Linked DNA regions of Homo sapiens. The protein of the gene in region 1 binds, or shares a complex with, the protein of each later gene. Links are inferred from orthologs where the notes say so. Each region holds a gene or a part of one and is shown in the gene's direction. Other genes may lie near its edges. The genes, in order: KCNJ8 and ABCC9.

What was found.
Region 2: the proteins of KCNJ8 (region 1) and ABCC9 are in contact, whole or in part, in a cryo-EM structure (PDB 7MIT), measured with the Rattus norvegicus proteins. The link is inferred for Homo sapiens from one-to-one orthologs. Residues at the interface, in NP_058795.3 of Rattus norvegicus: Met1, Leu2, Lys5, Ile7, Ile8, Pro9, Glu11, Tyr12, Val13, Leu14, Ala15, Arg16, Ile17, Ala19, Glu20, Asn21, Leu22, Leu45, Ala46, His47, Lys48, Asn49, Gly54, Arg55, Phe56, Leu57, Asp59, Ile60, Thr62, Thr63; in XP_038963045.1 of Rattus norvegicus: Phe5, Ile10, Tyr13, Asn14, Ile15, Val19, Asn22, Cys24, Phe25, Ala28, Leu29, Val32, Val35, Phe36, Phe39, Phe42, Pro43, Ile44, Phe46, Ile47, Gly48, Trp49, Gly50, Ser51, Lys55, Gln57, Ile58, Asn129, Phe130, Lys132.

The regions. Positions count from the first base shown.
Region 1 is NC_000012.12:21,769,677-21,781,018, reverse strand, and holds the start of KCNJ8 (ATP-sensitive inward rectifier potassium channel 8), read left to right. Parts: upstream 1-6,312; 5' UTR 6,313-6,473; intron 6,474-7,332; 5' UTR 7,333-7,402; coding exon 7,403-7,776; intron 7,777-11,342. UniProt on the Homo sapiens protein: Inward rectifier potassium channels are characterized by a greater tendency to allow potassium to flow into the cell rather than out of it.
Region 2 is NC_000012.12:21,928,997-21,939,602, reverse strand, and holds part of ABCC9 (ATP-binding cassette sub-family C member 9), read left to right. Parts: intron 1-1,525; exon of another isoform or gene 1,526-1,585; intron 1,586-2,908; 5' UTR 2,909-2,928; coding exon 2,929-3,070; intron 3,071-5,679; coding exon 5,680-5,821; intron 5,822-10,606. UniProt on the Homo sapiens protein: Subunit of ATP-sensitive potassium channels (KATP). Can form cardiac and smooth muscle-type KATP channels with KCNJ11. KCNJ11 forms the channel pore while ABCC9 is required for activation and regulation.

The DNA.
Region 1 (11,342 bases):
AAATGTCAGGTTTCTCTTTCCAAGCATTGCGTGAGTCACTAATTTTGGCAAAACATAATGACATGAAAGCATAGCAATGGATCAGGTGATCCTTGGGAATTGCTTTTTCCCTGAGTTTCAGAAATCCTGTGAAGAGTTCCTGTGAAGAATTCCTATGGCAGGACAGATCCCAGGCTCACGCGAACTTACCTTTCTTTGGCATGAGAACATGAAAGCATAATTTCAGGCCCTGAAAAAAATCAACAGTGACAGCCACTATTTCTCATCTTCTCTTGGGAGAGGGCCTACTAGCTTTATTTATAATTAGTATTTTGTAGCCTACCAGTAGAACATAATCAGCATGGGTACTCTTTCTTTGATGGAAGGAACTACTTTTCTCTTGGAAACACTATTACAGTAAAACACATGTGTTGATTTCTGAGTCCTTATTTTATTACCAGTATCTTGGTTGGCTCCTTTTTAGTCCCCAGTGTCTTAATTAAGTTCAAGAGTTGAGGAGACGGTAGTACAAGTATTGGTTAGTTATAATAGCACTCTGAGGGTTGGTAAGATCTCAAAAATATTCAGGTCTATAAAATGATAAAATAAATCTGTGAGCTGTAGCTTTTCCTTCCTACCCCCACAGCCTGCTCTGAGACCTTCTTGACCATCACCAAACTAAAACCAGCCCTAAGATATTAATGAGTTGATATTTATTAAGTACTTATCACAGGCCAGGAACTATCCTAAGCATCTTATATTATCTCATCTTGCCCTAAAAATAATTCTATGAGGTTCTAATACCTGGCTGGGCAAGAGAATCTCCAGGATAACTTTTAAATGTGCTTTATTTTATTAGAAGTGTTTATACCTTTTCATTAAAGATATTTTAATTTCTGGGCCAAAGATCATACTTCTTATTCTATCCTTGCTCAATAGAAGTCTGGTGGGGCATGAAATCATATTACCAGGTGTTTCTCGTGCAGCTGGACCATAGTTGGACAATCATCTCCTTGAGATATTGTCTAGTAAGAAAAGCACAGGATTTGGAATCAGATGTTCTGAGTCTGTCATAGCTTTCTACTTGCTTGGTAAGTGACTTTGGAAAGTCATTTTGCTAAATTCTAATCAATTCGTGTGCAAAATGAGAAAAATAACCTAATTTTCATGCAACTGTCTCAAGGATTAGGGTCAGTGATTTTCATAACCTAGTTACCTGGCAGACTCCCAATCCTTATTCATTGGGTAAATGGAGAGAACAGTGAAGGCACTTCCCAGTTTTCCCAGCTCTTCTTCTGCCTTTCCTCTTATCCATCTGCTATACTGATTTTCTTATTGTTCTTCAAGCACATCAAACTATTTCCTGCCTCAAAGCTTTTACACTTGCTCTTGGGCTGCCTGAAGCACTCTTTCCCAAGTTGATCATACAGTTGATTCTTTATTCAAATGTCACTGTTTTAAAGAGGTCTTTTTTGAACCCTATCTAAAACTGTCATCTCTGGCCCTAGTTACTTTTGATCCTTATCTCAATTTATTTTCTTTATATATTTTACCACTATTAATAATTATGTAATGTATTACTTGTTTGCTAACAGCTTTCTCCCCAAGAATGCCTTGGAGCAGGGATGTTGTTTTGCTCACCTAGATGCAAATCAAAGGGTAGTTATTGTTGTGAGTGCCTCCTTTCCTGACCTTTCTGATTCACACCTGTGAGCTTGCTAAAGTATGAGGAGCTGAGCTTGCAAAGAAGAAATGGGGTGACCTTATTTAAAACAGAGTGATGCTTTTCTGCACATAAATAGATACATATCTCAAAAAGAAATGTTCTCCGAATTCACTGGAACAAATAACTGAGAAGAGTTATACTGTCATTCCCATTCCATGATAACTCCAAAAAAGTAAGTTTATAACATGCTGTTTTGATTACTAGTTTATGTAACAATTTTATTAAGTTGATTCCAAAGCAATATGTTCCAAAGTGGTTTATACGAGGACACTAGTAAAGCAGCATACTAAGCAAATAGACCAACCATTATTTGTTCAGCTAACATGACTCGTTTCCATTGCCATTTTGAAGACCCTCCAAATTTTTAAGTCTAATATGGCTCAGGAAATCCAAGAGTTTGAAGTCTACAAGTCATGTCAAAGGCAAAGTCAACAACTGGAAGAATTTCACCCTTGCTCTCAAGGGTACTTTCAGAAACTTCACTGATTTGCATTTGGTAATCAAAGCAGCAGACAATTAGGAAAAGCATCAACCTAATATTTTCTCTACTTGTCTAAAGGCACTTGACAAGCTTTGTTTCTTAAGAGAATGAGAATGTCAGAAACCCAAAGAAAAATGCTCATAGGGTCTAAAAGGAACCTGGCAGATGCTGACTTACAACTGAACCAAAATCTTTTAATTGCTTTTTAATTGCATAAATTTCTGCAACATGAGTAAATTCTAACAGGATTCCTGCATACTCAAGAAAATTATAATAGTAAATAAAATTAGCTGTGTTCTAAACTTATTACTGATATCCTCTGGTAGTGTGCAAATTAGTCTTCACTCCTGAAAGAACAATTAAGAAAATTATTGAACAGTTAAGAAAATATACCTAACTTTTAGTGGACAACAGCATATAGTGATTGAATAAGCAGATGAATAAAATAAGCCCTAAGTAGTAAATGTGCTCTTGAAAATTAATTGATTTTTTTTTGCCAATTTCTCAGCCAGAGGCAAATTTAAATGTTCACTGTTTGGACCATAATATGAGGGAGAGCTAGAGGTCAGTCAATAATAAATATTTATTGAGCAGTTACTATGTGTCCAGAAAGACTTTTGGGGGATAGAGGTATATGTCAGTTAAGCTTAAAATCAAGTTGTAAAGAGAAACTTAGCTAGCAAATGCCAGACAAGTTTAAGTATTGCTGACTTAGAGCAATTAGGGAAGTTAGGGAAGTTGCTAAAGAAGGGAGAAATGGATAATTTTGCAGGAGTGTCCAATCTTTTGGCTTCCCTGGGCCATATTGGAAGAAGAATTGTCTTGGGTCACACATAATGTACAATAACACTAACGATAGCTGATAAGCTAAAAATCACAAAAAAATCTCATAATTTTAAGAAAGTTTACGAATTTGTGTTGGGCAGCATTCAAAGCTCTCCTGGGTTGCATGCAGCTCGCGGGCCACGTGTTGGACAAGCTTGATTTAAAGGTAGAGCAATATAGTAAAGAGAAAAGTGAGAATAAGAAAATTTTTGTAGACAGCTATAGAAACAGACTTCAAAGTGAATTCCAAAAGTTCACATTTCCTATGTGGGTTCTGAGAAATAGTTGCAAAACCATGAAGGGTAGAGAGAGATGAGAGAGAAAATGCAAGAGAGAGAAATACCATGTTTTGAACACTATTCCTACTTCTTTTCATTTGACAAGTATTTATTGAGTACCTACTCTTGGGATCTCGGAACAATTTGAGACCCTGGGTGTGTGGTGATATTAAACAATGTGCTCTCATGCAGCTTCCACTTAGTGCAGAAAAACTAGTTGAAGGACAAAGACATACACTGCTTAAGGAAACAATGTAGAAAGGGAATACAAAGAAAAATATATATCTGTAATATTCTTATAGCACACATTCTTTACCATTTAAAATGATTACTATTTGTTCTTAGGCCTACTATTGTCAAACATTTACTTATTAATTTCTTCAAATTTGATCTTTATTATGTGCCCTGATTTTGAATCAATCAAGTTAAATTACTGACTAATAAAAATATGACATTCTGTTATGAAAGCAAGTTGAAACGATTTAAAATTGCGTATTTGGAAGAATACATCTCAATGAAAAAAAAGAGTCTGAAATATGTATTATACCAAAAGAACAGAATTTTCAGAGAATTCAGATATGGATTTTTTTGTTGCAAATCTTCTCATAAATTCTCCACAGTACTTCAGCTCTTCTCATTCCAATTTTCTTATTATTTTTCTGTTACTATGATAAACATCACAGTCACCTCTGACTTTTCCCTTTTCCAATATTGACTCTGTATAACATTCCTTTTGTATGTATTTGTATAGTGCCCACTGATGTTACCTATTAGCCCAAGACCTCATTCCTTCTCTAATTAATGTAACAGTTTCCAGCACCCTCTTCTGCCAGTTACAGAATTTTGGAGCCCAGAGGGACTATACTCAAGAAATGCAACCCTTAAAGCCATTATATTCTCTGCTTCTGGATCAATCCTCTTAAAACAGGCTCTTATTGTGTAGTTTTCTGATCAAAATCTTTCCATGGCTTACCACTACATACTGAGGACTCCTCAGCTTCTTTTGTTGAGCATTTAAGGCTGTCTATGCATTTTTTAAGGCCCCAATATGCTTTTTCAACTTTGTATTTTTCATTCATTGATTCAAAAATATTTTTTGAGCCCATTTATAATTTAAATGGTGCTAGGGCCTTGCTACAAAGATGAACAAGTCACAGCCTTGCCCTCTAGCAGTCCCCAGTTTAAGGGAGGGGGTACAGGAGTGGTGGGAATGGGTGTGACGAGTACATGAAAATCTCATTAAGTATTGAGAGTAGGTGGTAACAGCGCCTGCCCAGGGAGCACTGAACTCAAGTGTCCAATCCTGCTGTGTAGCCAACTTGGCTTCATCAATGCTGACGTGGGCTGTCTTTTCTCTGCTTTTCTGTATACCCTAAATATATCTAGGCTTACAAAGCCTAGATCAGATGCCAAATAATCCATGGATTTTTCCTTAGTCTCCTACTCTTAAATATCTCTCATTTGAATTCCCATGACATTTTAAAATTTCCTTTCCTATTCTAATCACATCCCTGCTTGTATTAGAGAATATCTCTCTTACTACAACTGTCTGCCTCTTAAAAGCAACAACTATGACATATATTTATATATCTCTAGACACATAAACCTAAAAAAAGCTTACAAAGGTGTTCAGTAAATGTTCCCCAGGCTAAAATAATGAATAATAATGTGTACAAAGTCAAAGGTAAAATAGAACAATGGCGGGAATTGACTATACAAACTGATTCTTCATAGACTTGTAAAACTATTATACTACATAAATTACTGCAAAAATTAATGACAGTAGAAAGGAGGACTACCACTAACAAACTAGGATCCTGGGCTTACAGGGGTTAAGGAGATCTAACCACAAGGAGAAAAAAAAAGTTCTTAATTTGCCTTCATTAAAGACTAATTTTAGGTCTTTGGCTAATTAAATGAATACATTGTTTATGCTCCATACACTTTCGGCTCGAGTCTTGGAAAATACGTGGAACTTCCAAGAATTAAAGTTTCCATTAACGCAAGTGCCAAAATCAGGAGGCTTGACCTGTGGGAAAAAGCACATTTGTCTTCGCTGGCTCCTTTTCAAAAAGCTATAGATGTTTATTGTATAACCTTTTTTGTGCGCAAATGCTGTTTTATCATTCAGACCCATCTAGACAGAGGAAGAAGCTGCAACATTTCAGAAAGCAACCAATTACTGAGGACCGAATGACCTGGCCTTATCAGCGCTGAAGTGTTAACGGCCGTCCCTGTTTGGGGTAAAATTTCTTCATTGGGAGCCAGTCAGTGGTTTCTTTTTTTCTTTCTTTTCCTTAAGGGGCCGGGGGTGGTGGGGGGCAGTCGCTGTTTTGAGGTGTGTGTGTGTTTAATTCCCTGAGAACTGGCTTTGGCTGGTGAAGAAATACTTTACTATAGTGGGTTTCAGAACATCTTCCACCTGTATCTCTCCTAGCAGGTGGAAATTTAATGTAAATAATTGTGTGTGCCCACAGCTTGAACGCTTTGGAAGAATATTTTCTGACCTCTCTGCTTTTATTCAGTCCGAAGTAGCCCAGTTATCATGAAGTAGCCCAGTTATCTACCTAGATTACAAAATAAAATTAAAATTAAATCTCCTTACGTCAGTGAACTTGGAGTCAGAAAGTTCTCTCCCCTGAGCAGAGAGCCTTTTAAAGACTTGTGTGTCACGCTGGCGGCAGGGGGTCGCGGCTACTGGAAAGGAGCTGGCTCTGCAGGTCCCGCCCTCCCCCGGGTCGTCCCTCCCTCTGGCCTGCTCCCTACCTCCCGGGGACTTGCGCTCGCCCCCTCCCCGCCCGCCCCCTACTCCGCGACAACGTCGGCTTCCGAGGTCTGGCGTGCGTCAAAGCCCTAACTGGGAGGCTGATTTGTGGAGCATCGCCCCCCCGCCCCCGCCCCCCCAGTCCCTCCTCCTTCCACTGAAGTGGCCAAGGGAGTTGAGCTGAGCAGGGGGAGGGGAAGATCTACACCCATCCCCCTTCCTCTAGCCCTCCCTGCGTTTAGATTCAGTTGCACCTTTTATTATTTTAACTCTTCTCCTTAGGACACGCAGCCCCCAATTTGTCCCTCCGGCCTGGGCGGCCCCTGGTCCCGCGCGCCAGCATGGGAGAGCGAGGGACCTGCCCGCGGCCCGCCGGCGTGTGCAAGGAGGTCCAGCCGCCGCGCCCGCTACCCGGAGTCTGTAAGTTTCAAAGCTGCTCCGGGGGAGCGGAGGGGGGAGGCTGTCCGTGTTCCCGTAAATGATTTAAAATGCAAAACACCGCAGAGGCTTGCAGTGATGGATGGACTTTTCGGGGCACACTCCCTACTGCAACCCGCAGGCTGTTGTCTTGGGTTTTTTCCCCCCCGCACCTTGTATATTTGATTCCTTCGTTGTAAAAAAAAAAAAAAAAAAAAGTTTTCAATTTATAATATTATGATTTCCACAGGAACCTTTTTAACTCTTTTTAGATGCAACTCATACTTCTTTCGCATTTAAAATAATTCTTATAACTTATAAATTCTATAGCACACCACTTATTATAATTTTGTCAGATTACACGTTATTTAGACTGCGCAAGGAGTCATGGCCTTTGCTTACTTCTAAAAATAACGGAGGAAGAATTTTCTCTCTTTACTTTTAATATTGCTACATCATCTAAGTACTTTAATAAGTAGATCGTGCACCCAACTGGTCTTAATCTTCATGACTGACGCCACGTGCTGTAGCCTTGCACTAATTTACAGACGCGGTTAATCGCAGAGAATTATCTTTGAGCCTGCTGTTTACCGGAAGGCTCCTGGTTTTGTTTAACTAAGGCTATGTCCATATGTACTCAGAATAAGAAAAATTGAAACAGTTCTTTTTATTAAAACCAAGTAATTTTTCTGAGATCCCAGAACTCAAGCACAAGCTAGATTCATGTTTGGGTTAGTAAAAATCACATTTTTGGTTTTGCATGTCACCTCGCACATGTACAGACATATCCTTGAATACAAGGACCCAAGAGGTGAGGATAGGGTGGGTTTTTAAGTTTTTAATAAATGTTTCCCTCGTGCAGGAGGACGGGTGTCCAGGGACGGAGAGGCAGGTGAGAGGGAGGTGGCTAAGCTGGCTATGGTGACAGGACGATGTTGGCCAGAAAGAGTATCATCCCGGAGGAGTATGTGCTGGCGCGCATCGCCGCAGAGAACCTGCGCAAGCCGCGCATCCGAGACCGCCTCCCCAAAGCCCGCTTCATCGCCAAGAGCGGGGCCTGCAACCTGGCGCATAAGAACATCCGTGAGCAAGGACGCTTTCTACAGGACATCTTCACCACCTTGGTGGACCTGAAATGGCGCCACACGCTGGTCATCTTTACCATGTCCTTCCTCTGCAGCTGGCTGCTCTTCGCTATCATGTGGTGGCTGGTGGCCTTTGCCCATGGGGACATCTATGCTTACATGGAGAAAAGTGGAATGGAGAAAAGTGGTTTGGAGTCCACTGTGTGTGTGACTAATGTCAGGTAAGAATGTAGTGGGATGAGGCAGGGGTTGAAAACAGTAGAGAAAAAATGTCAAAATGCCCTTTCTCTTATCATTCTGTTATTTAATTGAAAGTGAAATAAAGGGTTTGTTTTAGAATCTTCAGAAACAAAAAAGCACAATAAAGAACAACACCTAACACAGTAAGTATTTTTTAAATGCAGCTTTATGGAGAAGAGTCTCTGAAAACCTGAGCTTCAGTCCTTTGGACTAGCCTTGAAAATGTTATACCAGTTATCAAAAAAAAATTGTAATTCAAAGGATTACACAGAGTGCTTTACTCCAAAAGCGCACACATTGAGTTCAGTATGAAAAAGCTGTTGTCCATAGTTTCAGTGCCCACAGGTAAATATCTCTGATCAACAAAAAATATTGTGCTAGTGGACATTTTTCTTGACTCTTCTAACCCATGACATTTTCAGAAATAATAAGAAAAAAATGGGAAGGCCCTAGGGGGAGAGTGTCCTAGATTAAAAATCTACTAAAAAATGAAATAAATATCATCCCTTCTTTATCGAGATTATCATAACATAGCTGATTGCTTGCACTGGATTCAGAAATTAAAAGTTATGCTAAGATTCAGAACTAGAAATTGCTAATTTTTAATGACAATTAGTCCAAAATTTTATGGAAGGGGTTATATAGAAGCAATTTAATTTTGTACTCTTCTTTCAAAGTTTAAATAGAATAGGGACAAGATAGTTCTTAGATTACCTAACTTTGGCTTCTTTCTCATATCATAAGTATCTCAAAGACAGGTAAATTGATTTCAGTGATTCACCTCTCTTGCTTTCACATGGTTTAAGAACATTTAGTTGAGGTGATTTCTTTGTTTTTTTCGGGGGGAGGTGGAAAGAGATAAATTATATCAATTACCAAGATGTTCACTGTGAAGCAAAAGAGTAGTAATAATACTGGAAAATTTTCCAAAACATTTTTAAAAGAACATTTTAAATTCACATAATTCACAAAGCAAAGAAACTTGAAAAAGCATTATGATACCAGGAAACTGTAAAGAATGGGACCTCTAGTGACCCTGAAACCTTATTAAGCTAGCATATCACTGCAGAAAGTGGACCCCAGACTGTGAACTTGTCCACCCTTCCATTTGCTAAGGAACTACAATGCCAGCCTTTCAAGGAGGAAGGCAGCATTAGTGCGCAGAGATCACACACCACAGATTTCAGCTCAAATTCTGAGCAGCAAAAACTGTATTGAATTGATCTATTGCTTTTAATATTGATTAGATATTATTTTCTTTTTTCAAACTTCTCACAAACTGTTGTCTCAAAGAAAATGCAGCTGGAAAACATAGATCATCAGTATACCAGATATAAAGAAAACACAATACTTAAAATATCCGTTAAAACGTTCAATAGATACTCTAAGATCAAATATCATTATCTATAATATATATCTTTAAGAAACTTACTGGCACTGATAATTGGTGAATCATTTTCATATCAAAATAAAGTTTTAATCTAAATTATATGATACTGATAAAAAGAGAAAAAAGAAATGGTAACAGCAAACCTTAAAAATCTTCATTCTCTCCCAATGAGAATGTAAAAGGTGACTAATAATAATTCTAATTCTTTGCATTTTTCCCTTTGTGAATTCAATGTCCAACCATATCACTAAAATTGGAAACAACATTTTTCATTGAATATTCACCAGTATTTCCAAATAATGTTTGACCATTCTTCTCTTAGGGTGACTCATTTTCTCCTCCATGTATTTTCTCCTGCAAGGAGTCTCTTTGACTCCATTTAATATGAGTCAAAAAATAGACCAATATATTTCCTCTTTCTCGATATTATCCAGCCTACCTCTTTCTGTAACAGAACAAAGAAACAGCTAAACACTTTTATCTCTTGAGATTGTTTAGCATAGCAAGTGTCAGTAAAAAGCTGGGTCTTGTACCATATGTAATATTTAGAATTCATAAACAATATACAAAATGTGGCTCATGAATAGTCTCTTAAACCATTAAAACAAACTATTTGGGATATTTATCATTAGACTGCTCTCTGAGGTATGGATACATTATCAGAAATCAGTGTTGTATCCATACCCCTTCTCTGGGGTCCATTTTTATTCTTGCCATGTTTTGGGGCTATACCAGATATCTTTTTGTGGGTAGTTAGTGCAATAGGCAATTACTGTAGTTTTCCATGAATCATTTTAGCAACAAAAGAGAAAGGCAACTTTCGCACTTCACTTAAAAGCTAATCAAAAGAATAATCCATGTATTCTTGCTTATCCCTCATAATTTTCTACCAAAGTGCACTGTACATACCAAGTACTCAAATGTTTAAACATTTTTCTCACCTGCTGTCTGTAGCATTAATAAATAGGTAATACTTTGAGAGATTGCTAATGTGTAGGCTTGTCTTCTATAAAGTTAGAGAAGTTTGAAATTGTGGTTGGGGGCAAAGATAGAACTAATATTGTTTCTATGAAGAAGCCACAGCAGTACTTGTTGTGAAATTAAGTGTTATAAATTGATAGTAACAAATGTGGTGCTTCCCATATGGGAGTAAATCAGAATCCCCTGAGAACTTTTCAAAAGCATCTTACCCAGATCCAACCTCAGCCTACCAAATCAATGTCTATTCACTAAGATAGGGAGTAGATGTGCAATTTGAAAAAGCTTCCCAAGAAAATCCTACAACTTCTTGGTTCCTTCCCTCTGCTTCTTTCACAGGATTAGGCCAAAGTGAGAAAATTCAAGTTAGTATAATATTAATTACAGGTATACCTTAGAGATATTGCAGTTTTGGTTCCAGACCATTGCAATAAAGCAAATATCAAAATAAAGACAGTTACACAAACCTTTTGTTTCCCAGTGCATATAAAACATTTATATTATATTGTAATCTAGTAAGTGTGTAATACCATTATGGCTGAAAAATATACATATCTCAATTCAAAAAATATTTTAATGCTAAAAAATGCTAATGTTCATCTGAGCCTTCTGCAAGATGTGGTCTTTTTGCTGGTGGAGGGGCTAGCCTTGATATTGATGGCTGCTGATTGATCTGGGTAGTGGTTGCTCAAGGTTGGGGTGGCTGTGGCAACTTCTTAAAATATGACAATGAAGAGTTTGCTGCAACAATTGACTTTTCTTTTCACAAAAGATTTATCTGTAATGTGTGATGCTGTTTGATAGCATTTTACCCACAGTAGAACTTCTTTCAAAACTGGAGCTAATCTTCTCAAAACCTGCCACTGCTTTATCAACTAAATTTATGTAATCTTCTGAATTCTTTGTTGTCATTTCAACAGTGTTCACAGCATCTTCACCAAGAGTAGATTCCATCTCAAGAAACCACTTTGGTTGCTTGTCCAGAAGAAGCAACTCCTCATTCATCCAAGTTTTATCATGAGATTGCAGCAATTCAGTCACATCTTCAGAATGCCCTTGTAATTCTAATTCTCTTGCTATTTCTACCACATGTGCAGTGACTCCCTCCACTGAAGTATTGAACCCCTCAAACTCATTCATGAGAATTAGAATGAACTTCTTCCCAACTCCTGTTAATGT
Region 2 (10,606 bases), 160 kb from region 1:
GCTCCAGAAGGGGTGGAGCTGAAGGATGTCAGGTGACAGAGTTTAGCCAGCAAGAACAGCGATTTATACCCTTCCCCAAACATTCCCAATTGAACCTGGTGTCTGGGAGGGAAACATTAAATGACAATTGGAAATTTAAGGATTAGGAACGTGGATTGAATAAAATGCCTTTGATAAACACAATAATTATCAATATATCAGCAATAAGTTTACTGCCTCCCTCTTTTTGTCCATGTTGGGTTGTAATGGAGGCTGGCTGTTAGAGTGCCACATGGACTCTGGATGTTGGATAAGGAGACTACGGGTTAAAGGGAAAGGATAAATGAGGAGTCAAAAGAAAAGGTGAAAGGAGACATGCGGTAAGGTAATGCACAGGTTCAGAGCCGGCCGGAAATGTGAAGTTAGAGTTTATGGCAGACAGAAAAATCGTTCTAAAGCGTTTACTGTACCAACTTGAAGTTTACACTTTTGTTTGATTGCATCATTTCTTATTTTCCTATCTTTTAGATCATATACCCCTACAATATACCCACAGCTACTGAGACTACTGTAATCTGATTCATACAGTCTAAATAAAACCACAGAAACTGTTTCTGACGTGCACCATTGGATTCCTAGTAACTAGCACGTAGTTAGCATCAATAAGTGTTTTTACAGTTCATTAGTTAATGGCATAGAATTCCAGATATCTGGTGTATGTCTGAAAATGTTCTTAAATTTTTCAGGTGATTGTACTTCTCTGAGATTTTTTTTCCAGTTACACACAACATTTATCCAAAGGCGATTTAATTGGTAGATTTCAGGATTGATTAAACACCAGGCAAGCAATGCTTATAGCTAATGAAGGGTGTAATTTGCAAAGCAGCAGGTTATATTTTAGCATCTACCTCAATGATACTAGTTTATAAATGTGGCCAACTGGAATATTATAATTTTGGATAAGATTATAAAAGTTGCTAAAGTAAAAATCATTTTCTAGTTTGTGCGAGGAAAGTTTATATATGTCTTTCAATTAAGAGTGGGCTTTAAGTTTTCTTTTTATCATTTCTACTAAATAAAGGAAGTAGTCTAAAAAATTCATTACTAGCTATTAGTTTTTAGTTTTGTTTTTGTCTGTCTTTGCCAGAAATACATCTAACATACACCTATAAATTAATAACTTCCATTTTGCTGTTTTTTAAAAACTTCAAGTCCCTTTTATTCTTTTATCCAGATTAATACCTTAATAGCTTGTTAGAATTTACCCAGTGTATAACTTCACCTTGAGGTTTTAAAAATACAACTTTTTAAAAAAAGATGAGGGAAAGACTCAACTAGAGAGCATATCAACTATTTATTATAAAAAGAGCTTATCAGGAACAATATGTGAGAGGCATTCTGTATAAGTATCTAAGATTGTAAATACACAGACTCTTTAGCTGAGGCATTCATATAATGCTTTATAAAACCTTTGCTTGAAATTTGATTTCTCTAATAATTTACCTACCATTGACAATCTTTTCTGTATAACACTGTTTTTTCCTAGGAAAAGTATTGTTTGTGACCATTGCTAAATCAATTATCAATGAAAGGAAAGAAAGAAAAGGTACTATGCTAGTTAATAAAATTTTTGCCAGCCTTTTGTAATGCAACTCAGAATCCATTGTGACATAAATATAGAAACTAGGTCTAGTGAGGTTAAAATCTTAAACTGCTACTTGTTTTAAAGAATAGATACGATAGCTTCTTTAAAAAGCAGGTTGGAGGTTGTGTAATACGGTGGAAAGAAATAGTTTATAAGTCAGATATTTGGGTGTGGACATGACCGCTTTACTGGTTGGCAAGTTACTGAACTTATCTGGACCTCAGTATCCTCCATTGTAAAAGATGAATTACAAGGTTGTTCTGAGGATTTAAGATATGCAAAGTGCCCAGAACTTAAATAAGTAGTAGGCATTATAAAATAAGTTTTCAGAATGTCAAAGCTTTTCCTGGAATTTCACAGCAGTATTTTCATGGAGCAGACCTTTGCTCATCTCCCATCTGTTTGGGCACAGCATTAATAGAGAACCATTTAACATGTAAGTGAGAGCACGTCACTCCTCTGCCCCGGAATCCCCAGTGGCCCACTTCACTAAGAGTAGAAGCCGCAATCCTGACAATGACTTACAAAGCACAGTGTGACCTTGTCCTCTGTTTCCTCTCTAAACTCATCTACTTCTACTCATGGAGTACCAATTTCCAGTTAAAAGACATCCTGCGTTTCAAACTTGCGTAGAGTGTATTTCTTGTGAGAATATTCTAACTATGGAATCTGAGTAGTTTCGTTGACTTGTCATTTGAGTTAGGTTTAATTCATCTTGAGCATTTGATTTTTAATATTCTTCAGGGAAAGACTGATTACTGTTAGCCATTACTGCAGGCACACTTGTTTCTGTATATTAGTATTTCCCACAACTAGTGAAATGTTTCAGCAAACTCTGTCACAGTTTACTGAACAACTTTTGTTGTTTATTAGTACATTTTCAGTGAGTATGGGAAAATATTTGAAATTATACCATTTTGACTTTTTAGTCATTGGTTCAATTTTTTTTCTCCTTTTTCTTAATATATGACCATTTTTGTTCTTTGAAAGCATTTTAGTCAGACACTCATTTGAGGTACTACTATAGGTAGATATTAATTATAATACATTTTCCACATGAAAGCATTTTTCTCTGGAAGTAAAAGCTATGGAAAAGAAGATCTCATAGGACGTATTTTATAAGAAAGCTTCAAGTTGCTTTGGCACAGAGTTTCTTATTTCCTCAGCTATCAAAGTAAAAGGGATTAATTTTATGATATAGCCCTCTATTCAAGGCTTTAATAATTTTATGAACAAGAGTTTACTAATAAGAGGATTTTTCTTTCTCATTTCTCTCCCTTTTAGAGTAAACCATATAAGAAGAAATGAGCCTTTCATTTTGTGGTAACAACATTTCTTCATATAATATCAACGATGGTGTACTACAAAATTCCTGCTTTGTGGATGCCCTCAACCTGGTCCCTCATGTCTTTCTGTTGTTTATCACTTTTCCAATATTGTTTATTGGTAAGTAATCTAGTATCTTATGTTATACCATTTGATGTTTATATATCTCGCTAATGGCTGAGATTTGGGATAATGTTGACTTAATTTCTGTAACATGGAAGCTGATGGCTGTGAGAAACGAACAAGCAAGTATTTTGTGTTTTTCAAACATATATTTTTGACAGGTGATCTTCCGTAGGTGAAATTGAGGTCACATGCTTGCTTAGGCATGGCCTTCAGGTAGCAGCAGCAGTTTTTTAAAAAGAAGGAAAGAGAAATATATGAGATAGATCTACAGCATTAGTTGAGCACTTACTTTGGGTTAGGTAAAGGGAATGGAAAATGAATAAAAGAGTACTTGCCTTCAGGGAATAGTCCAGTGGGGCAGATGTGTTAAAGTCATGAGAAATGACTATGCCACATTGTAAGCCTATTTACAAGCACAGGAACAAATTAACCTGCTGAAACAACTCACTCTTTGGAGGTGGTGGGGAAGATAGTGAGTGACATGTCTGGGGAACTGGAAGATGCCAAGCATGCAAGTTACAGTGGGAGTGATGAGGTTGTGTTTTATGTAGAAAGAGGACATTCACAAAGAATTTGGGAAGAAGTTAACAATACAGTTTTGTCTATTATTTTACAGTTTACATATGTATAAAATCTGATAATTAGGGGCAATTATGAATAATTTGTATAACTTACCCAAACAGACCCTTTAACTTTTTTAAAATTATGAAGTATTTTGATACCTAAAATGATGGACATTAATATAATAAATATCCATTGAGCCTACCAACGCTCATCTAAAGAATATAGAAATAAGAATGAAAGGACCTCTCTCTGCACACCATTTCCTGGTCTTGTGACTCTTTCCATATCCTACGTTCCTATCTTTTCACAGGAGACAACCACTATTTTGAGTTGATTGTGTTCAATTTTTTCATGTATGGTATCTTTCCAATTAAATAAGTGAAAAAGTTTTCAGATGCATTTTCTTAAGAAAACTAGCAAAATTTAATGATCTACTTTAAGGGAATGTTTGAAAATCATTCATACACTTTTATTTATTCATTTAACAAATATCAATTGAGAGGATACTATGTGCTTGGCATTATTCTAAGGGGGATTAAAGAACTCATCATATGGTATATACACAGGCCAACATAATTCTTGGTACATAGTTATGTTGAACAAATGTACAGATGCTAAATATATTGAGACCAGAATGGCCATATGTAGAAACATCAGTCTTTGTTTATGTAGTATTATTTGTAGGCCATGAAGAACGCCCTTTGGCCAAAAGTAGAAAAATGGATTTTTTAACTGTAATTCCACAATTAATAATTCCCCAGTTATTGACATCTGGTTAACTTTTTGAGAGCAAGAACAGGGACATTCCATTTTGTATCCCTAGCATCCAGCAAAGAGGCTGGCACCAGGGTATTTGAATAGAAGAGAATTTGAGGGGACATTGTTAAAGGGAAATAGAAAAAATTCAGACTTTTCATTTATGACATTGGCTGCTTGAATTAGTGAAGGATCATAAATCAATCTTAAAAACTATCAGGTACTAGGAAAATCATAAGGTTGCAAAAAAAGACATAGAACTTGCCTATGGGAGTTTACAGCATAAGTTCTAGTAGAATATATTAAATATAACTAATCTTCCAATGATGAATAAATTGAAAACAACTAAGACATGAATATTCATTTCAAATAAAAGGGGCATCTGCTGCCTATACAGAAATTCTTTCCTGCAGTATTTCAAGCCCAAACCCCCATTTGTTCTTGAAGTAGGTGGGGCTTTTTTTCTACAGTCAAAAAATGAGAAAAAAGAACAAAACAAGACAAAAGTGGGGCCTACTAGCACACCACATATGACCTAGTATTACTCTACATGACCTAGTATTACTCTACATGACCTAGTATTACTCTACGTAGTAACTAAACTGTATAGTACTTTAGGGAGAAAACGATCAGAATTTTACTAACATACAACCTTGAATTTTTTTCTTCAGTGGCAAGCTAACGGTGGACCTATAATGGTTTTGAGCTTGCTTAAAAGCTCATCATCAAGAAATTTAGCTTTCTTTGAGAAAAGTATCAGTACTACTTGTTGAATAATAGTGCCTGCCTAGTCATACATAACAATTTTTCTCATATGATGTGCATATGATTAAGAGTTGACTCAGCTAATGAGTCCTGTATTTTGTAACCAAATATGTCTTTTCTTGATTTAGCCCCTTGTAGATTTCATGTCTTCAAAGATTTTCTACACCAAATTTCATGTATTATTATCATCAACTTATTTCCTTTTGAATTAATCAGAAAGCTGTCAGGAAGAGCTTCTGATTAGCATGAGGTAGAACCATGTTGTCATCCAGAGTTGGTATTATTCCTGAGTAATGCCACAAATGTTAATGTGTTAGCCTGAGTAGTCTTGTAAAAGTTAATTGTAATTCTTTTGAATAATGAAAATAGACTAGGATTTCCATTGCTACTCTAGAAAGTTTTAAGGTTTCAGGACCCCCCCACCCCTGCCTTAAAGCTTATCATAATTTAAATTATGTTTATTACAATTGAGCCTTCGGTTTATGTCTTTTTGTTTTTAACTTTTCTCTCTTTTCCAGGGTGGGGGAGCCAAAGCTCAAAAGTACAAATTCACCACAACACATGGCTTCATTTTCCGGGACATAACCTGAGATGGATTCTTACATTCGCTCTCCTGTTTGTGCATGTCTGTGAAATAGCAGAAGGCATTGTTTCAGACTCGTAAGTGATCTAAGTTAAATAATACCACTGCAGTATACCAGTGGGTATATTGATTACACAAGTTCACATCTTTGTAACTTGTGCCCATAAATGTGCTTTATATTTTTTGCTCTCTGATCCATGTAGCTCTTGCAGGAAGTTCTTATGTCTTTTTGAACTTTTTAATGTTAAAAATAGGTATAAATGGAAAGATTGTCTACATTTACACATAGGTCTAATAGCTATATACTTATGTTAATATATTAATTATTTCTCAGATTTTTCCATTTATTTTGTAAAGAAGCAAAGATAGATGAGTCAGGATGAATGAGTCTGAGAATCAGTGAGGATAGAGCCATAAATTGATGCAAACCACAAAACTTTTAAAATCAAGATTTGTAATAAAACCAATTTTTTAAACTTTTATTTTAAGTTCAGGGGTACAAGTGCGTGTTTATTATGCAGGTAAACTTGAGTCACGGAGGTTTGTTGTACAGATTATTTCATCACCCTGGTATTAATCCTAGTACCCATTAGTTGTTTTTCCTGATCCTCTCCCTCCTCCTACCCTCCACCCTCTGAAAAGCAAAAGCCCCAGTGTGTGTTGTTTCCCTCTGTGTGTCCATGTGTTCTCATCATTTACCAAGTGAGAACATGTGGTATTTGGTTTTCTATTCCTGTTAGTTTGCTAAGAATAATGGCCTCCAGCTCCATCCATGTCCCTGCAAAGGAAATTATCTTGTTTTTTTCTGGCTGCATAGTATTCCATAGTGTATATGTACCACATTTTCTTTATCCAGTCTATCATTGATGGACATTTAGGTTGATTCCATGTCTTTGCTATTGTGAATAGTGCTGCAATGAACATATGCATGCATGCTTGTGTCTTTATAATAGAATGATTTATATTCCCATTACCCAATAATGGGATTGCTGTGTCAAATGGTATTTCTGTTTTTTGGTCTTTGAGGAATCACCACGCTGTCTTCTACAATGGCTAAACTAATTTACACTCCAACAAATGGTGCATAAGTATTCTATTTTCTCCACAGCCTCACCAGCATCTGTTATTTTTGACTTCTTAATTGTAGCCGTTTGACTGGTATGAGATGGTATTTCATTGTGGTTTATATTTGCATTTCTCTAATGATCAAGGATGTTGAGCTTTTTTCCATACATGTGTCTGTTCATGTCCTTTGCCCACTTTTTTATGAGGTTGTTTGTTTTTTTCTTGTAAATTTGTGTAAGTTCCTTATAGATGCTGGATATTACATCTTTGTTGGATGCATAGTTTGCAAAAATTTTCTTCCATTTTGTAGGTTGTCTTTTTACTCTGTTGATAGTTTCTTTTGCTGTGCAGGAGCTCTTTAGTTTAATTAGATGCAATTTGTCAATTTTTGCTTTTGTTGCAATTGTTTTTGGCATCTTTGTCATGGAATCTTTGCTCATACCTATGTCCTGAATGGTATTGCTTAGGTTGTCTTCCAGGGTTTTATAGTTTTAAAAACCCATATTTTTAAAGGAATTTTGTTATTTTTATAAAATAAGATGTTTCATTAGACAGTTAAAATATAATGAATTATATTTATAAACTTGAACATAATCTGGTGAAAATATTTTTCTCATATAGTAACAAAATAAACTCAAGAATAGGTAAATTTTGATTATGAAATTATGCTAAATGGTGTAACTTTCATTGAGGAGCTAATATTAGAAGACCTTTAAATTTTTTGATAGGAAAGTCTAAAATTTATTTTCTTCTTATTGAACTGGAACCTCCCTGACATCTGTTTGTGTTTTCTGTTGCAATTAACAAGGAATGAAACTTCTAAGCATTTGTCATGGAACCAACTATTTTGTAATGTTTTATGAGGGCTTTTCGCAGGTATGTGCATGTCTTAATTTCTGATAAAAAGAAAAATTAGAGACTCTAATAGATGCCATCCCTCCAGACATTTAGAAGCTTAATTGGATATTATCTTGTTGGTAACTGTTTAAAATGCTGGTATATTTATTTATACTAGCATAGCCAATTCTAGGCTTAATTTTTATACAGTAGCATTTAGGCTACTGTATCTGTTTATATGCGTATGTATAAAGTAGAAGATAGATCATCCAATATTTTTTTGAAACTTGACATCATGTGGACAAGAAGACTCCTCTGGTTGATATGTAGATTCAGTCAGGTCCTCACAAAACACAGATTGAACTCACAATAATAATGATATATCCTAATGGTAGAAACTTGTTTGTAGTGGTCATGATAAAAGAGGTCCTAAAAACAGGTAAAAATACAGCCTTGATTCTGTGTTATGCTCTTCTACTCTTTAGGTATAGACTTCTCCTTACCCTTTTTATTCAGGCTTTTCGAAACATCATCTTCTAGTTACTTCTTTTTTTTTTTTAATAAAGTAAAAAGGTTTAATTGACTCATAATTCCACATGGCTGGGGAGACCTTAGGAAACTTACAATCATGGCAGAAAGGGAAGCAAACAATTCCTTCTTCATATGGTGGCAGGAGAGAGAAGTGCAGAGCAAAGGGGAAAAAGACCCTTAAAAAACCATCAGATCTCGTGAGAACTCACTGATAATGTTGAGAACAGCATGAGGGAATTGTTGCCATTATCTAATCACCTCCCATGAGGTCCCTCCCCCAACACATGGGGATTACAATTCGGATTACAATTCAAGGTGAGATTTAGGGTGGGAACACAGCCAAACCATATCATAGCTCAATTTAATTTTTAAATTTAAATGTGCTTCTATATTTTTAGCAAATAAAGCTTACATTTTCTGAACTCAGGTACTTTAAAAAATATGAACTAATTTTTCTAGAGCAGTTTTAGGTTTACAGCAAAATTGAGTAGAAAATAGAGAGATTCCCTATATACATCTTTCCCCCACATATGCCCAATCTTCCCTGCTATCAAAACCCCACAGTATATATCCCATATAATTTCATAGTAATCTGCATTTAAGGTGCCTTTAAGTTTTTTCATGGCCAAATAGATCATTTCATTTTAGTGCTGAATGATATTCTATTGTCTGTATATACCACCATTTATTTATCCATTTGCCCACTGAAGGGCATCTGGATTGCTTCTAAGTTTTGGCCATTATCAAAAAAAATGCTATAAACATTTCTGTGCACGTTTGCACATATTGTGTAGACATAAATTTTCAACTCATTTGTGCTGGAGAGTCCTATTCCACCTTTCTGCTCCACTGGCCTGTAATTCTGTGACATTATCTACGCTGAGAGGATCTTGTCTTAGTTTTACAGATGAGACCTAAGATTATCTGTGTATAACATGACCTCCCCAGGTATGCCAATCATTTAACTTCTTTCCTTCCTCCTTTCAGAGGTCTGCTTTTTTGAAAACCTCATTTGTAAAAAAAAATTTGAATTTTTATAGTGCTATATAGATCTGTTTATTGACTACTTGGGCAGTGTTACACTTTTATAATTATCCTAACTTTACAATACATATCAGAAGAATTCTATGGTCCCATATTATATAGAAATATGACATCAATAACCTGTAGAATAAAGATAATTTTCAAAACTTTCTGTCACTTATCTGGATTAAGAAAATGTGGCACATATACACCATGGAATACTATGCAGCCATAAAAAAGGATGAGTTCATGTCCTTTGTAGGGACATGGATGAAGCTGGAAACATCATTCTCAGCAAACTATTGCAAAGACAACCAAACACCGCATGTTCTCACTCATAGGTGGGACTTGAACAATGAGAACACTTGGACACAGGAAGGGGAATATCACACACTGGGGCCTGTCATGAGGTAGGGGGAGGGGGGAGGGATAGCATTAGGAGATATACCTAATGTAAATGACGAGTTAATAGGTGCAGCACACCAACATGGCACATGTATACATATGTAACAAAACTGCATGTTGTGCACATGTACCCTAGAACTTAAAGTATAATAAAAAAATATGTATATATAAAATTAATACCCAGTACAAAACCAATTGACAATATCTAAAATTTTATAATGAAGAAAGAGGAATGATAACACACTCTTCTAGTTACTTCTAAATCCAAACATTTAGTTTTGCTTTTTCTCTTGCCCCATCTTATTCTGGAAACTGCTTCCGTAAGAATCTTCATGATTATTAATGACAACTAATGGAGACTCTTTTATCTTTATCATAATTATGACTTATGACACTGCTGATCACTCCATCTTTCTTTTTTTAAATAAAACCTTTATGAATTATTTACTTAATATCTGACAAATGCTCATTACAATTAGAAAAACAGTGCAAAGTCTTTCCTAATAGAATATTTGATTTTTTTTTTAGTAATAGAAGCATTTAAAGCTAGTAATTTTTCTTTTGGAACATCCTTTGTTCTGCATTAGTTTTTGTTCTCCTTTTTATTTCTACCTGTGATTCCGGTTTACTCTCCTAGGTTTAGGAATCCTTTTTAGTTTGCTCTTTTGTTTAATTTGATTGGTTTATTATTAAAGCATGTAGTTTGTAAAATGATTACTCTTTGTGGTTTATTAGCATTTTTATTATAGTCAAATACTTCATTATTTTATAAATATTTAATTAGTATTAGAAAGTAATATATACACTTTGTAGGAGACAAAATTTTATTGCGTTTACTGATTGTATTACTGAAGTTCTATATGTTGCTTGTTTTTATACTATTTAATCTGTCAAAATTCTAAAAGCAGTGTATTAAAATCTTCACTATTACTGTGTTTTATTAGGTTTTTATTTTTATCATTTTCTGTCTTTCAAAATGATTTCTTTCACCTTTGCAATAT